2 linked regions of the Homo sapiens genome follow. The protein of the gene in region 1 interacts with the protein of each later gene in a biochemical or structural test. Each region holds a gene or a part of one and is shown on either strand. Other genes may lie near its edges.

Region 1 (3,500 bases):
AAGATTTACCTGATTAAAATGTACAATTCAATAATCTTTTAGTAAATTTACATAATTGTTCAGTCATCACCACAATCCAATTTTAGAACATTTCCATCATTCCAGAAAGATGCCTCATGTCCATTTGCAGTTACTCCCTGTTCCCACCCCCAGCCCCAGGCAATCACAAATATACTTTCTGTCTCTATAGATTTGTCCTTTCTGGACATTTTATGTAAATGTAATCATATAATATGTGGTCCTTTGTGTTTGGCTTCTTTTACTTTCCATAATGCTTTTTGAGGTTCATCCATCTGCCATGTAGTACATGGTTCCTTTTTATTGGATACCAGTTAATGGGCATTGGATTGTTTCTGCTTTTTGGCTGTTTGGAACAAGGCTGCTTTGAGTATTCACATCAAGTCACCCCATGAATATGTTTCATTTTTCTTGGATGTATACCCAGGAGTGGAATTGCTGGGTTATATCACAAATTCAACTGTTTAAGAAACTGCCAAACTGATTTTCAAAGTAACTGTACCATTTTATGTTCCTACTAGTAATTATAAGAGTTCTTGTTTCTCTAAATTTGTTGTCTTTTTGCGTGTAACCATCCTAGTGACTATGAAGTGGTATCTCATTGTGGTTTTGATTTGCATTGCCCTAATGACTAATGATGATGAACATCCTTTCATGTCCTTATTTATTAGACTTTCATGGATCTTCTTTGGTGAAATATCTATTCAAATCTTTTGTCCACTTGGACTGCCCATTGGGTTGTTTTTTTTTTTGTTTGTTTGTTTGTTTTGAGATGGAGTCTTGCTCTGTTGCCCAGGCTGGGGTGCAGTGGTGCCATCTCGGCTCACTGCAACCTCTGTCTCTTGAGTTCAAGCAACTCTCCTGCCTCAGCCTCCTGAGTAGCTGGGGTTATAGGTGCCTGCCACCATGCCCAGCTAATTTTTGTGTTTTTAGTAATGATGGGGTTTCACCATATTGGGCAGGCTGGTCTCAAACTCCTGACCTCAGGTGATCCGCCTGCTTGGCCTCCCAAAGTGCTGGGATTACAGGGGTGAGCCACTGCGCCTGGCTGTTCGTTTTTTTTTTGAGTTATAGAAGTGTGTGTATGTGTGTTTGTATGTGTATTCATTCTGGGTATGCGTCGTTCATCTGATATATGATTTAATTTAAATATTTTCCTGTCTGTAGTTTTTTTTTTCTTCTCATTTTCTTTCTTTTTTTTTGAGACAGTCTTACTCTGTCACCTAGGGTGGAGTGCAGTGTCATGATCAGGGCTCACTCCACCTCCTGGGCTCAAGTGATCCTCCCACCCCTGCCTCCCAGGTAGCTGGGACTACAGGTACATGCCACCACGTTTGGCTAATTTTTGTGTTTTTTGTAGAAACTGGGTTTCGCCACATTTCCCAGGATGGTCTCAAATTCCTGATCGCTCAAGCGATCTGCCTGCCTCAGCCTTCCAGAGTGCTAGGATTACAGGCGTGAGCCACTGCGCTTAGCCTTCTTTAATTTTATTATTATTATTTTTTTTTGAGTTGGAGTCTTACTCTGTCGCCCAGGCTGGAGTGCAGTGGCATGATCTTGGCTCACTGCAACCTCCGCTTCCTGGGTTCAAGCAATTCTCCTGTCTCAGCCTCCCAAGTAGGTGGGATTACACATGCGTGCCACCACACCAGGCTAAGTTTTTGTATTTTTAGTAGAGACTGGGTTTCACCATGTTGGCCAGGCTGGTCTCGAACTCCTTACCTCAGATGATCTGCCTGCCTCGGCCTCCCAAAGTGTTGGGGTTACAGGTGTGAGCCCCCGCGCCTGGCCTCTTTCATTTTCTTAATGGAGTCTTTTAAAGTACAAAAGTTTTGAATTTTGATGTTTATCATTTTTTTCTTTTATTGATTTTGCTTTTGGTGTTGTATCTAAGAAATCTTTACTAACCCAACATTGTGAAGATTTTTTTTTCCTGTTTTTTTTTAAGTGTTAGTTTTAGCTCTTGCATTTAAGCCTCTGATACATACTGAGTTAATTTTTGTGTATGGTGTGAAGTAAGGTGAACCACCTTGTTTTACAGTTGAAGACACAGAGACAGAAAGGTAACATGACTGCTTAAAGCCATGTAGCTAATTAGAGGCAGAGCCAATACTGGCATCTGTGTCTCCTGTAGCCTAATTCGGGATCCTTGTTCCTGTATCTACATTGATTCGTTCTTGGATATAAACTGGAAGATGGGGGTCATTGTCTCACAGATTAAGGGAATGATCTCCCCTGCTTTTTTCTGAGAAGGGTCTCACTCTGTCACCCAGGCTGGAATGTAATCACAGCTCACTGTCTCACTGTATGAACTCCTGGCTCGAGTGATCCTCTTGCCTCGTCCTCCCCAGTAGCTGGACTACAGGCATGTGCCACCATGCCCGCCTCATTGTTTTATTTTTTTGTAGAGACAGGGTCTCATATGTTGTCCAGGCTGGTCTCTACTTCTGGGCTCAAGTGATCCTCCCACCTTAGCCTCCTAAAGTGTTGGGGTTTACAGGTATGAAGCACTGTGCCTGGCCAAGGGAAGTATCTATCCTTAGAGTGAAAAAAATCTGATGGATGTTCCACACCTGTCACGTCCTTCCAGTCTGCTCCTGACAGCCTCTCTCCATTTTCCCAACAGGGAGAAAAAAAATTTTTTTTCTTTGAGCTACAGCCTAGTATAAGTAGCAAGTTTCAGTAAAGCATTGTATTCTTATTCTAACTTTGCTTCCATACCAAAATGTTTGTTACATAGTATTTTATAATAAGCTATAGTCTTCAAAATGAATCTTTATGATTTCAGATTACACTCAACTTTTTCAGGAAACACATGATTAAAATCTAGAAAAAAGGGTTTGGGATCATTTAAATTTTGTTTTCAAAGGATTGTATTCTAGAGAAATCAGTGTAATGGTGTCATCTCCATCAAAACACGTACATTTATTTGAACTGTAACATGTTTATTTGAACTGTAATTTTTTTCACATTTGCTTCTCAGCAGTATACTATTTATGGGATTGTTTCTCACATTCTGTTTTGTTCTTCGTCTTTCTGGTAAAATCCTACAGAGAACAGAATCTCCTCTTAGGAACATATTAAAAGCCTATAGATTGAAAATTCAAAGGACTTTTTTTTTTTTTTAAAGAATTGTATCACCTTAAGCATGCTTTGGCAAGATTTGAAGTTCTTTAAGTATGATTATGTGTAAAAGATGTTAGTATCATTCTCACAATTAATCATTGATCTTTCAGTATTTTTGAGCCCTTAGTCTTAGATTAGAATTTCTGAGCATGTGTTATACTGTATTTGGCATGTGTTGAAGCAGCTGTAAAAATTTGGGCTTTGGGGTTAGACTGACCCAGATTCAAATCCTGACATTGCCTCTTACTAGTTATGTGATCTTAGACAAATTATATGATTAGTTTCCGTGTCAGCTTTTTGTCTGTATAGTGGGGAGAATAGTACCTATGTCACTGGGGCCGTTATATAGATTGAGT
Region 2 (3,500 bases), on another chromosome or scaffold:
ATTTCTAGAACTAATAGCAAATTTAGCACAATTGCAGGATATGGGGTACGAAAGTCAACCATAGTTTTATATTCTAGCAACAGGAAGCTGGAAAAGGAGATTTAAAGAAAAATAACATTTATAATAGCATTCCAAAACATCAGCTACCTAGGGATAAATTTAATGAAAGAGGTATAACATCTTTACACTGCAGAGAAACAAAAAAGATGCCAGTAAACGGACACTACATTCACAGGAACGCTCATGTTGTTCATATGTCAAACCTCACCCAGATAATCAACAGACTGAATCCACTCCCAGCCGAAATCCCAGTGGGCTAGCCTGCAGAAAGTGACAGGCTGTTCCTAAAACATATGGAAATATTAACGACCTGAAAAAAATCAAGAACTTCTTGAAGAAGATCAACACTGAAAGTCTTTCCTGAGCAAAGATTAAACTTCCTAGAAAACTTCAGTCATGAAGAGAGTGTGGTGTTGCCACAATGATAAGGGAATTGCTAAAGCAAACAAAATAGCAAATTCAGAAATGGACCTACACACAGACGACCACTTGACGAATGTCTGCTCAATTCAGTGCAATTCAATATGGAGAGGAAGGGGCTGGAACGATCAGATATGCAGAGAGGAAAAAAACAGATTTACCTCTGCATCAAAATATACTCAAGAGTTCATTTGAGATGGCTCATGGGATCTAAAGCAATAGCTAAAGCTGCAAAGCTTTTAGGAAAAAAAAAATTAAAATTTTTACCATTTCATGTTCACCATTAAGAAAGTGAAAACACAAACCACAGATTGGTAGACTATATCCATTATATACACACACACACACACACACACACACACACACACACACACAAGGGGTCTTCAAAAAGTTCATGGAAAAGACATACCATGAAAAAACTATGCATGACTTTCAAAAAAAATCTTTGTACCCAAATAAACTTGTACTAACTTATTGCAGCATGTCTGAAGAGGAGGTAGTCTGAGGCACTAAGAAGGAGAAGACTTCAGTTTGAAAAGAGCCCCTATCACAATAACGTGAATTCTGCCAAGCAAGAACCAACATCACATGTATGGTGAAGCTTGGGTGGAAGAATGGTGAGATCACTGATGCTTTCTGAAAAGTTTACAGGGTCCATGTCCCCAAAGAAAATAGCAGTTTACAAATGGTTGACTTGTTTTAAGAAGGGATGAGACCATGCTGAAGACGGAGCCCACAGCGGCAGGCCATCCGCATCACTTTGTGAGGAAAACACTCATCTGGTCTGAGCCGTAAGTGCAGAGGACGGGTGGTTAACAGCAGAAATAGTGGCCAACACCACAGACAGCTCAGTAGGTTGAGCTTACACAATTCTGACAGAAAAATGAAAGTTGAGCAGACTTTCCACTCAATGGGTGCCAAACCCATTGCGCCCACATCAGGCGCAGAGAAGAGCAGAGCTGTCAGTGGTAACTTTGAACAAGTGGGATGGAGATCCTGAAGCTCTCTTTGAACTATAGCGACATGAAACGTGGCTTTCCTGGTATGGTCCTGAAGACCAAGTGCAGTCAAGGCAATGGTGCTGAGGGCTGGAAGTGGTCCCATCAGAGCAAAAGTGGGCCAGTCAAGAGCACATTGTGGCAACAGCTTTTGGGATGCTTAAGGCATTCTGCTTGCTGACTTTCTGGAGGGGTAACAAGGAATGTAACATCTGCTTAGTATGAGAATGTTTAGGGAATGTTAGCCAAAGCTTCAGCAAAACCCCCCCCGGGAAAGCCTCCCCAGAGAGTCCATCTCCATCACGACAATGCTCCTGCTCGTTCCTCTCACCAAAGAAGGGTGATTTTGCAAGAGTTTCCATGGGAAATCATCAGGCATCTACCCTACAGTCCTGATTTGGCTCCCTCTGACTTCTTTTTGCTTCCTAATTTTGAAACATCTGTAAAGGGCACCCATTTTTTGTCAATTAATAATGTAAAAAAGACTCCATGGCCATGGTTAAATTCCCAGGACCATTAGGTCTTTAGGGAGGGACTAAATGGCTGGCATCATTGCTTATAAATGGCTGGCATCATTGCTTATAAATGGCTGGCATCATTGCTTATAAGTGTCTTGAACTTGATGGTGCTTGTGTTAAGAAAAAAGCGTGTATTTCTTCTTTAGTAGCTGTAACTATAGGTATGTGCCACCATGCCCAGCTGTTTTTTTTTTTTCAGACAGGGTCTTGCTCTGTCGCCAGGCTGGAGTGCAGTGGCACTATCTCGGCTCACTGCAGCCTTGACCTCCTGGGCTCAAGCGATCCTCTCACCTCAGCCTCCTTAGTAGCTGTAACTATAGGTATGCACCACCATGCCCAGCTGTTTTTTTATTTTTATTTGAGACGGACTTTTGCTCTTGTCGCCCAGGCTGGAGTGCAATGGCACAATCTCGGCTCACTGCAACCTCTGCCTCCCAGGTTCAAGCGATTCTCCTGCCTCAGCCTCCTGAGTAGCTGGGATTACAGAAGCCCACCACCATGCTGGGCTAATTTTTTTTTTTTTTTTGTACTTTTAGTAGAGACAGGGTTTCACCATGTTGGCCAGGCTAGTCTTGAACTCCTGACCTCAGGTGATCCACCCGCCTCAGCCTCCCAAAGTGCTGGGATTACAAGCGTGAGCCACTGCACCCAGCAGCCCAGCTAATTTTTATATTTTTTGTAGAGATGAGGTTTTGCCATATTGCAAAGGCTGGTCTTGAACTCCTGGACTCAATCAATCCACCTGCCTCAGCCTCCCTAAGTGCTGGGATTACAGGTGTGAGCTACCATGGCCAGCCATATATTTCTTACTTTTATCTTTTAATTCCATTTTTCTGTGAACTTTTGGAAGCCCCCTTGTATATGACAAAAGATATATGATGAACTCCCACAAATCAATAATAAAAAGTTAAACAAATCAACTTTTAAATGGTCACTATCCTTGACCAGGCACTTTTTAAAAGACGGCTGATAAGAATATGAAAATATAAGAATATGAAAATTGTTTAATTTGCTCTAAGGCAAATTAAACAATAATGAGAAACCTATTACTAGACCTCAAATTCTTTTTGCAAATACAATTTCAACTACAATGTCCTACACAGAATATTTAAAAAGTCACAAGAAAAGACAAGGCAATATAAAGAAAAACTAGGACAAAGAGCAAACAAAAACTAAAAAATATTATGTGAAGGAGATACAAGATAGAGAATTTTGGTAAAGAGTCAGAAACTTTTTTTTTTTTTTAAAGATACAGGAGATACGGTTAAAAAAAAATTCAACTGAAAAACACAATAACCCAAATTAAAAACTGAATGGATAGGTTTAACAGCAGTTTAGACACAAAGAAAAATTTAGTGACCTAAAATCTAAAGCAAATAAAACAGGAAGGTATGACTCATTCAAAGGAAAATATTTAACTGACAAAAACATGCCCAAGGAAGCCTAGACATTGGACTTAGTAAACAAAGGCTTTAAACCGACTGTCTTAAATGTGCTCGAAGAA

The links. Proteins that work in one complex are often made in the same cells at the same time.
Region 2: the proteins of OXSR1 (region 1) and WNK2 interact in a test that uses a peptide from one of them, tested with the Homo sapiens proteins (one large-scale study listed by BioGRID and IntAct).

Annotation. Positions count from the first base shown.
Region 1 is NC_000003.12:38,168,537-38,172,036, forward strand, and holds part of OXSR1 (serine/threonine-protein kinase OSR1), read left to right. Parts: intron 1-3,500. UniProt on the Homo sapiens protein: Effector serine/threonine-protein kinase component of the WNK-SPAK/OSR1 kinase cascade, which is involved in various processes, such as ion transport, response to hypertonic stress and blood pressure.
Region 2 is NC_000009.12:93,313,139-93,316,638, reverse strand, and holds part of WNK2 (serine/threonine-protein kinase WNK2), read right to left. Parts: intron 1-3,500. UniProt on the Homo sapiens protein: Serine/threonine-protein kinase component of the WNK2-SPAK/OSR1 kinase cascade, which plays an important role in the regulation of electrolyte homeostasis, cell signaling, survival, and proliferation.